2 separate regions of the Homo sapiens genome follow, and region 2 is linked to region 1. Evidence: fine-mapped expression QTL. A gene starts in region 1. The other region holds a variant in brackets. All regions are shown on one strand. Distances are between the middles of the regions.

Region 1 (5,375 bases):
GTAACATATTCACAGGGTTCAGAAATTAGTATGTGGATATCCTCGGGAGGCCATTACTCTGCTTACCATACGAAGGCTATGGTCTTGCCAAGCCAGTATAATTAAGTGTGAAAGAGAAAAAAAATAAGTTAAAGTTGTATACAAGGAAGCCTCCACAATTATTGACTCTGAACTTCAAACTATGTAAGGAGAGAAGTGAGAACCTGAGGGGTGTGCAACAGTGAAAAGATGGAATCAATGAACTATAGGTCCCAACAATATCAAACATTTGTTGGAATTGGTATTCTAGAGGGAGTAAGGTAGAAGATGGAGAGTAGAATGCTTGAACGGTGGTGTAATAATGTAAGTGTAATAAAAAGTCTGATTCTGCTGGGCATGGTGGCTCACACCTGTAATCCCAGTGCTTTGGCAGCCTGAGTTGGGAGGATCACTTGAGTCTAGGAGTTCAAGACCAGCCTGGGCAACACAGTGAGACTTCATCTCTACAAAAATCTTTTTTTTCTTTTTTTTCTGAGACGGAGTCTTGCTCTGTTGCCCAGGCTGGAGTGCAGTGGCGCCATCTCAGCTCGCTGCAACCTCCGCCTCCTGGGTTGAAGCAATTCTGCCTCAGCCTCCCAAGTAGCTGGGATTACAGGTGCCCGCCACCATATCTGACTAATTTTTGTATTTTTAGTAGAGACGGGGCTTCACCATGTTGTCCAGACTGGTCTTGAACTCCTGACCTCGTGATGCACCTGCCTCGCCCTCCCAAAGTGCTGGGATTACAGGCATGAGCCACTGCACCCAGCCTACAAAAATCTTTTAAAAATTAGCCGGGCTTCATGGCACACACCTCTGGTATATGTTTATATGTACAGTAAGTCCTCAGTTAACGTGGTCAGTAGGTTCTTGGCAACTGCAACTTTAAGCAAAATGACACACAGCAGGCCCTTGAATGACACTGGTTCATTCAATATCATTTTGCTGCAACACTGATGAGAAAAAAATTGGTTTTGCTACGTCATTTCACTTAAAGTCAGTTTCCAAGAACCTATGGACAATGTTAAGTGAGGACTTACTGTATACACACGCACACACATCTTTGCTCACTCATGTAAGTGTATCTGTAGAAGAAAATACTACAAGTCTTAGCTTCAAAAGTAAAACTATGTATCTTAACTTTTGAATTGACTCATATAGCTCATCACACACCAGCCTGAGAGAATATAAATAAATGCTTACTCACACTATTGACTTTATTAAAATCTGGCATGGTTTTCTTGAATGGCAATTTTAAATACACATTCCCTAAGACCCAGCAATCGGAATTCCAAAGTGTACACTCAGTTACGAAGTGCACAAAAATTCACACAAAGGCTGCCTATTACAACAAAAGTATAATGGCAAACAATTGGAAAAATCTAAATGAAAGGCCTGGCATGGTGGCCCACGTCTGTAATCTCAACACTTTGGGAGGCCGAGGCAGGAGGATTGCTTGAACTCAGGAGTTTGAGACCAGCCTGGGCAACATGGCGAGACCCTGTCTCTACTAAAAACACAAAAAAAATACTTTGGGAGGCCGAGGCGGGCGGATCACGAGGTCAGGAGATTGAGACCATCCCGGCTAACACGGTGAAACCCCGTCTCTACCAAAAATACAAAAAATTAGCCGGGTGTGTTAGCGGGCGCCTGTAGTCCCAGCTACTCGGGAGGCTGAGGCAGGAGAATGGCGTGAACCCGGAAGGCGGAGCTTGCTGTGAGCCCAGACCGCGCCACTGCACTCCAGCCTGGGTGACAGAGCGAGACTGTATCAAAAAAAGAAAAAAAAAAAATAGCTGGGTGTGGTGGTGTGCGCCTGTGGTCCCAGCTACTCCGGAAACAGGTGGGAGGATCGCATGAGCCCCGGGGGATGGAAGTTGCAGTGAGCTGAGTTAGAGATCGCGCCACTGCACTCCAGCCTGGGTGACAGAGCCAGACCCTGTCTCTAAAAATATATATAAAACAACAATAGTAAAATAATAAATTGGCTGGACATGGTGGCACCCACCTTAAGTCCCAGCTACTAGGGAGGCTGGGGCAGGAGGACTGCTTGAGCCCAGGAGTTCGAGGCTGCAGTGAACTATGATCAGGCCACTGAATTCCAGTCTGGGCGACACAGCAAGACCCTGTCTCAAAAAAAATTAAAGCAGTAAAATTCACAGAGACAGAATAATGGTTGCTAGGGGCTGAAGGGAGGGGGAAATGGGGAGTTTGTTTAATGGGAGTAGTTTCAGTTTTGCCACATGAGAAAAGTTCTGGAGATGACGGACGGCTGCACAACAATATGAATGTAGTCAACACTACTGAACTGTACATTTAAAAATGGTTAGGATGATAAACTTTATTTTTCATAAAACCCAGTTTCTGCACAAAAAGATAAAATTTATGTTATGTGTACTTTACCACAATTTAAGAAAAAATTTAAATTCTCATCCCAACATTACCACGCCCCCCACCCTTAGCCAACTGGTGAATGTTTACTCATTTTTCAACGCCTAGCTCAAATGTCTCCTCTTGCCACGCCATCCCTTAGCTGACCACCCTTGTAGTTGGCCATTCCCTCTTTTATGCCAACACTGTGCCCTGCACGTACATTATACCTCTTACAGCACTTATCAAACCTAGTAATTATTGCTTTACAGATCCGTTTCCACTACTAGATTACAAACAATTTGGGGGCGGGGACCTTGTTTTACTCATCTCTGTATCCCCTAGACTTAGGGCTTGATAAGCTGAAAAGAATCAAGAAGGGCTTGATTAATTAAGGCTCCTCTGGCTTTTAAGGAGACCATACTGGAGGGTCATTTGCCCAAAAGAAGAGGCATCGGGGTCTCCTCAGGTTTTAGAAATCTGGTCAAACATCCAGAGCTGACTCCCACACCCTACTGCGAGAAGAGCGCGAGCGCGCGTCTCAAAAGGCTCCGCCTCAACAGTTCGGGTCCCCAGGAGGATCCGGGGGCCACCCCACCTCCACCCTGGGCCAGGTCGGTTAGCTAGACCCGCCCAGCGGTCCAGACATACCTTAGGTAATGAGCAGCCTGCTCTGGGCTCAAGGCCTCGGCTTCCGGAAACCTTCGGGATGCCTCCATGACCCTCGGATTGGGTTCCAGTTACCCCGGCGGGAGTTTGGAGCTTGGAGCTTGGAGCTTGGAGCTTGGAGCTTAGAGTTTGGAGCTTGAATTTCGCTCACTCCCGCCCCGCGCATGCTCTGTGCGCCGTGGAGAGGGACACAGCCAACCGACGGCCTCGCGGCCGGCCAATCCGCGACCACGCGCTGCGACGCCTCCGCCTGAGCCCCGCCCATGACGGTGGGCGCCTGCGCCTACGCGCGCCGGGAAGCAGAAGGTGATCTCTGCCTTCGAGACACGGAGTGTGCTGCCTCAGTCTGTGATCCCTCGCGTTTCAATCCAATTCAAACCATGCTGCAGCCAATTCGTTCGCGCGTGCGTGTGCCATCATTGTGAGTGGAGGAGACTGCCCGATATGATCCCAGTCATTGCGGCGACCCCTGGAGATCTCCAACGCCTGCGTCCCCCAACCATACCCTGCCCCGCATCCACAGATATCTTCCCTTCCTTGATCGCCAGTACCTGGCACTGACCGTGCTTTGAATTCAAACACCCTGGGAGGCATAGTCCCTGTGATTTAAACTAACATTGAAGAAGCGACCAGACGCGGTGGTTCACGCCTGTAATCCCAGCACTTTGGGAGACCGGGGCGGGCGGATCACGTGAGGTCAGGAGTTCGAGACCAACCTGGCTAAAATGGTGACACCCCGTCTCTACTAAAAATACAAAAAATTAGCCGGGCGTGGTGGCGGGCGCCCGCAGTCCCAGCTACTCGGGTGGCTGAGGCACGAGAATCGCTTGGACCCAGGAGGTGGAGGTTGCAGTGAGCCGGGATTGCACCACTGCACTCCAGCCTGGGTGGCAAAGCGAGACTCCATCTCAAAAAAAAAAAAAAAAAAAAAAAAGGCTGGGTGCAGTGCCTCACGCCTGTTATCCTAGCCTTTTGGGAGGCTAAGGTGGGAGGATCACTTGCACTTAGGAGTTCGAGACCAGCCTGGGCAACATGGTGAGACTCCCGTCTCTTTAAAAAAAATTTTTTTCTTCTCCACAGGGCGTTATGCTGTATTTATTTTCTTAAAAAGAGAGAGAGAAAGAGAGAAGGGTCTTCAAGAATCTCAAACCCTGGAGGTGGAGGCTGCAGTGAGCCAAGATCATGCCACTGCACTCCAGCCTGGGTGACAGAGAAAGACTCCATCTCAAAAAAAAAAAAAAAATTAAAGTTCTTATTTAAGAAATAAGTAACTAGGTTCACATACTTGGTATAATAAAAGGAAGACAAAAATAATTTAAAAAAAAAGAAGTAGTGCTGTGGTCATCATTTCTTCAGAAGCACCAACTAAGATACAGTCATTTTCAAATGCAGAGCCTAAAAAGAAGGCAGAGCCTAGAGCTTAAGGAAATGTGATTGAGTTTAAGTGGCTTGCTTGGGTGACACTAAATAGGAGGTTGTGGGCCAACAAAAATTGTCCTTGTTCATATACTGTTAAGAACACAGACATGACTCCTCAAGACACTAATTTAGCATTCAGTATTGGAAAACTCACCTATTGGCCCAGTCATACATCATATGTCCAGAGAATTTTAAGCTTTTCATAAAATTTATAGACCGTTATGAGTTAAAAGGAATGTTGGAGGCCGGGTTCAGTGGCTCACTGAACCTGTAATCCCAGCACTTTGGGAGGCCGAGGCGGGCGGATCACCTGAGGTCAGGAGTTCAAGACCAGCCTGGCCAAATGGTGAAACCCCCGTCTCTACAAAAATTAGCTGGGCATGGTGGCGGGTGCCTGTAATCCCAGCTTCTCGGGAGGCTGGGGTGGAAGAATCGCTTGAACCCAGGAGGCAGACGTTGCAGTGAGCTGAGATCGTGCCATTGCACTCCAGCCTGGGCGACAGAGCAAGACTCCATCTCAAAAAAAAGAAAAGGGTTGGGGGGAGGTGGGGGATCTTGGAGAACATGGGCTATTTTCCTGGTTTGTATGACTTTAAGGCCTTTATTAAGAGGCCTTTTAGTATACTATTATCCACATTTTTCAGATGTGGAAACAGGCTCAGAGAGATAAATTGACTTCATCTAAGCTTCCTGAGCTAGGAAGCAGCAGAGCCAGAATTCAATACTAGGTCCATATGGACACAAATCTGTGCCGTTTCGCTGTGTCACACTGGAAAGAAGAGGGCAGTGGCGGGAAATGAGGTTGATGAGGCAGTTGAAGGCCAGGTTATGAAGGAACTTGTTTACTCTGCTAAAGTGTTTGAATCACATCTTTTCCTGGAGGCAAGCTTGGATTGGGC
Region 2 (5,375 bases), 47 kb before region 1:
GGCTGGTCTTGAACTCCTGACCTCAGGTGATCCATCTGCCTCGGCCTCCCAAAGTGCTGGGATTACAGGCATGAGCCACCGTGCCTGGCGGCTTTAGCTAATTTTTTAAAAACTTTGTTTTGTTGTTTTTATCTTTGTAGAGATGGAGTCTCGCTATGTTGCCCAGGCTGGTCTTGAACTCCTGGCCTCAAGCGATCCTCCCGCCTCAGCCTCCAACAGTGTTAAGATTATAGGGGCATGAGCCACCACACCTGGTGCATGTGGCTTTAAAGAGGCACCTTACCCTCTCTGGAAAAAAAATAAGTTCAATGTGGCCACTCATGAGATATATGGAAAGGAGTGGCACGTTATTCACTAGGAAAGTAGATTAGGGTTAAATTTGTTTTTATAAAGCCTTTTATTTTGAGATAATTATAGATTCACATGCAGTTTTAAGAAATAATACATCTAGCTGGGCATGGTCGTGTGTGCCTGTAGTCCCAGCTACTTGGGAGGCTGAGGTAGGAGGATTGTTTGAGCCCAGGAGTTTGAGGCGGCAGTGAGTCAGGATCACGCCACTGCACTCCAACCTGGGCAACAGAATGAGACCTTGTCTCTAAAAAAGAAAAAAAGAAAAAGGAAAAGAAATAATACGTATTCCTTTGTTTCTCCCAATGGTAACACCTAACAAAACTATAGTACAATAGCACAAACAGGATATTGACATTGATGTAGTCAAGATACAGACAATCCTACCACTACAAGGATCCCTCCTCTTGGCCTTTTATAACTATACCCGCTTCCCTCCTGCCCCACCTCTGCCCTCTTAACCCATGGCAGCAACTTATCTGTTCTCCATTTGTGTAACTTTATAATGTCAAGAATGTTATATGAATGGAATAATACAGTATGTAACCTTTTGGGATTGGTTTTATTCACCCAGTATAATTCGCTGGAGATTTCATTCAGGTGGTTTTGTTTATCAATAGTTTATTCCTCTGTATTGCTAAATAGTACCAGTTGAGTATCCCTAATCCAAAAATACAAAATACAAAATGCTGTAAGATCTGAAACTTTTTGAGCGCTGACATGACACTCAAAGTAAATGCTCATTATAGCATTTCAGATTTTGAATTTTCAGATTAGGGATGCTCAACTGGTAAGTTTAATGCAAATATTCCCAAATCCGAAACACTCTGGTCCCAAGCATTTTGGATAAATGATATTCAACCTGTATCCCATGATGTGGAAGTGCTGTAGTATGTCGAACCATTCACCTGTTGAAGGACAGCTGGGTTGTTTCAAGTGTTTTTTGAAGGCACCAGTCGGTGAGGGACCCTGGGACCCTCTGGCCTTTTAGGGTTCAGCTCCTTTCACATTCTGTCATTCTGCTTCAGACCCCACCCCTGTGCCCACACCCTGCCCTTTTGTCGCTATAAGCTCTGCAGATTCTGAGACCCATCCACTGACCACAGCTTCCCTCCTTCCCCTTCCCTTCCTGCCTCCGCCAATCCTGTTCCTCTGTTCTTCTCCTCACAGACCCCCAAGCCCTCAAGCCCACCCTAATCTCCCCACTTTCTCCTAGGCTTCATGTTTGTTTTCCTATCCCCTGCACACTCAAAATTAGGCCTAAGGGCTTGATCATTGGATTGAGGAGGTCCAGTTTTTCTTTTGGCCACCTCCCTGCATCCACCTCCCTGCTACTCAGGATCAATCCAATGGTCTACTTTCTATGCACTTAAAATTAGATCTATAGTTAGAAGAGAAGAATTCGAGTGGTTCTAGTATAAAGAAAAGACAAATATTTAAGGTGATGGATATTCCAAGTATACTGATTTGATCTTTACCAATTATATGAATGTATTAGATTATTGCATTACCTTGAAACTGTACATCTACTATGCATCAATAAAAAAGAAAGGAAGGAAAAGAAAAGAAAAGAAAAGATTTCCTTGAAAACGTCTAGCTGGGGGCAACTTAAATATTAATACTTGATTTTTAATAAGTATGTAAATAAAGTATTTACTAATAATTCCAATATGAGTATTATATTTGCTTATAGATGAACTTATTTCAGTAGCTTGGCTCAAATTTGAAACAGTTACTTAAGAAAGAAAAATTCAGCCGGGCGCCGGTGGCTCATGCCTGTACTCCTGGCACTTTGGGAGGCCAAGGCTTGCGGATCACCTGAGGTCAAGAGTCCAAGATCAGCCTGGCCAACATGGTAAAACCCCGTCTCTGCTAAAAATACAAAAATTAGTCGGGTGTGGTGGCGGGTGCCTATAATCCCAGCTACTCGGGAGGCTGAGGCAGGAGAATCACTTGAACCTGGGAGACAGAGGTAGCAGTGAGCCGTGATCACACCACTGCACTCCAGCCTGGGCAACAGAGCGAGACTCCATCTCAAAAAAAAAAAAAAAAGCTCCCCAGAACTGCTGGGCCCTACTGGAAAGTCACACAGCCTTGGGGATTGGGACTACTAATACTTGGTCTCTGACTTTACCTAGGCCCTCAGTGCTGCTCAGCAATCCTTTACCGCCCACCTGTAGCCATCCACCACCCCACTCCCATCAGTCAACAGAGAACTTCATTCCATGGTTCTCAACCCTAGACGTACATCAGATTCGCCTAAAAAAATACGAGTGCCTAGGGTCTCATCCCAGACCAACTGCATCAGAATCTCTTGGAGGGGGGCCTGGACTTTGATAACTTTTTTAGAAGGGCTGGGCTCTGTGGCTCATGCTTGTAATCCTAGCACTTTGGGAGCCCGAGGTGGGTGTATCACTTGAGGTCAGGA[A/G]TTCGAGACCAGCCTGGCCAACATGGTGACACCTTGTCTCTACTGAAAATACAAAAATTAGTTGGGCATGGTGGCATGCGCCTGGAATCTCAGCTACTCGGGAGGCTGAGGCAGGAGAATCACTTGGACCCGAGAGGCGGAGGTTGCAGTGAGCTGAGATTGCGCCACTGCACTCCAGCCTGGGCGACAGAGTGAGACTCCATCTCAAAAAACAAAAACGAAAAACTTTTCTAGAATTTCTGGAGGTGATTCTAATATGCTGCCAGGGTTAAGAAACACTCATCTAGTCTCACAGCGTTAGTGTGAGGATTTAATGAGATAAGTACTCATCAACTTTTAAATGTTTTTATTATTTTAACAAGAAAGTGGAAACCAGACCCATTGTCAGGAACTCATTGGCTTTCAGCCCCCTAGCAACAAAGTTACCTCCTCACCTTTTTTCCTTTAAGGCTAATTTTTCAAACCGTGTTCTGAATACCAAACCTTGCTCCTTCATTTATCTCTACCCTCTTTTTTGTTCTGTCTTCAACCGGTTTTTTTTTTCCTAGGTCTTTCCCTTCATTCCGAAAATATGCCCAGGGACCTTTAAAATTCGTGGGTTTTTTTGTTTTTGTTTTTGTTTTTGAGATGGAGTCTCACTCTTGTTGCCCAGGCTGGAGTGCAGTGGCGCGATCTTGGCTCACTGCAACCTCCATCTCCCAGTTTCAAGCGATTCTCCTGCTTCAGCCTCCCGAGTAGCTGGGATTACAGGCATCCACCACCACTCCCGGCTAATTGTTTGTAGTTTTAGTAGAGATGGGATTTCTCCATGTTGGCCAGGCTGGTCTCCAATTCCTCACCTCAGGTGATCCGCCCACCTCTGCCTCCCAAAGTGCTGGGATTACAGGCCTGAGCCACCTCGCCCAGTGTAAATTTCGTATTTACATGTCTTCCACTTTTTGCCTCTAGCCAGAGCCCTTTCTCCTTTTCAAACAAAGTTAGTTTGTTTGAATTACCCTCCCACTTGACATTGTTTCCTCAGTCAGCCTGCTGTATTCTGGCTTCTGCACTTAAACTCTTCTGAAACTCCTTTTTCTGAGATCATTGTTCCATCATTGCACAATGTATTATACTTCTTACCTGATGTCTCTGCAACCCTTAACCCTTGTTGACCATTTCCTCCTTGAAACTCTCTCCTGCCTTGGTTTGTTAGCACACGCTTCTCTCCTACCTATATGGCCTTTCCTTTTTATTATGCTTTTTTCTTTTTTCTTTTTAAGAGACAGGTTCTTGCTCTGTCACACAGGCCGGGGTGCATGACATGCAGTGGCATGATCATAGCTCACTGCAGCCTTCAATTCCTGGGCTCAAGTGATCCTCCTGCCTCAGCCTCCTGAGTAGCTAAGACTACAGATGTGCACCACCATGCCCGGCTAATTTTTTTTAAAGTTTTTGTAGAGATGGGGGTCTTACTATGTTGCCCAGACTGGTCTCAAACTCCCATCCTCAAGGGATCCTCCCACCTTGGCCTCCCAAAGTGCTGGGGTTATAGGTGTGAGCCACTGCGCCTCGCCCCTTTTTATTACACTTTTTGAGTTCTTTACTTGTTGCTTGAACATTGATAGTCTCCAAGGTTACTTTAGCTTTCTTTCCTCCTCTTCTCATTTTCATCTCCTTCCTGGTAACCTCATGAATTCCACACTTCAGCTGCCACCTCCATAGTCATCACTCCCAAACTCTTTCTGTAGCTTGGCTCTCCAAGACACAGCTGCACTGTTGCCAGTTCGTTGGTCACACTTGCAGACCCCACAGGAATGAAAAACTCTTTGTCGCACTGTCTAAACTAGAATACTCGTTTATTCATTTATAAAATGGTGGACGGTATCCCCTATCTGTGACCACGAATGCAGTGTACATTTTCCCAGGAATTGTATCAGACAATCACTTTGTGAGTATGGAAGCAGAAACAAGGAGGCAATCTAGAAGCTGTCTCTTAAAAAAAAAAAATTAACTGTAAAACAGCCTCAGGCAGGTCCTTCAGGAGGTATTCCAGAAGAAGGCATTATCATAGGAGATGACAGTCCCATGCATGTTATTGTCCCTGAAGACCTTTCCATGGGACAGGACATGGAGGTAGAAAACAGTGATATTGATGATCCTGACCCTGTGTGGGCCTAAGCTAGTGTGTGTATTTGTGTCTTAGTCTTTAATAAAAAAGTTTAAAAATTAAAAAAAAAAATTTTAAATAGAAAAAAGCTTATAGTGGCTGGGCGTGGTGGCTCACACCTATAATCCCAACATTTTTGGGAGGTTGAGGTAGGCAGATCACTTGAGGTCAGGAGTTCAAGACCAGCCTGGCTAACACTGTGAAACCCTGTCTCTACAAAAAATACAAAAATTAGCTTGGCGTGGTGACACGCGCCTGTAATCCCAGCTACTCAGGAGGCTGAGAGACACAAGAATCGCTTGAACCTGGGAGGCGGAGGTTGCAGTGAGCTGAGATTGTGCTACTGCACTCCGACTTGGATGACAGAATGAGACTTCATCTCAAAAAAAAAAAAAAGAAAAAAGCTTATAGAATAAGGATATGAAGAAAGAAAATAGTTTTGTACAGTTGCAC

Alleles and levels. Positions count from the first base shown, and alleles are read on the strand shown. Sizes are in standard deviations (SD) of each study's normalised expression.
For the expression in tibial nerve of the gene that starts at base 3,223 in region 1, allele A in region 2 goes with a lower level than allele G (small effect, 0.26 SD a copy in GTEx).

What was found. PIP is the estimated chance that this variant, and not a neighbour inherited with it, causes the effect.
Region 2: its variant is the best candidate, but not a certain one, in a credible set for the expression of ERCC6L in tibial nerve (GTEx, PIP 0.71).

What each region holds. Positions count from the first base shown.
Region 1 is chrX:72,235,805-72,241,179 of GRCh38, forward strand. ERCC6L (ERCC excision repair 6 like, spindle assembly checkpoint helicase) reads right to left here and starts at 3,223. Exons shown (of 2, transcript NM_017669.4): 1 at 3,040-3,223. The coding sequence starts at 3,107. It also overlaps a transcript of PIN4 not described here. RefSeq lists an enhancer at 3,005-3,154.
Region 2 is chrX:72,188,569-72,193,943 of GRCh38, forward strand. All of the region lies in intron 2 of PIN4 (peptidylprolyl cis/trans isomerase, NIMA-interacting 4), which reads left to right. Among named protein-coding and RNA genes, the nearest start is that of PIN4, 9.5 kb to the left of the region's middle. The variant A/G (reference allele first, on the strand shown) is at 2,777.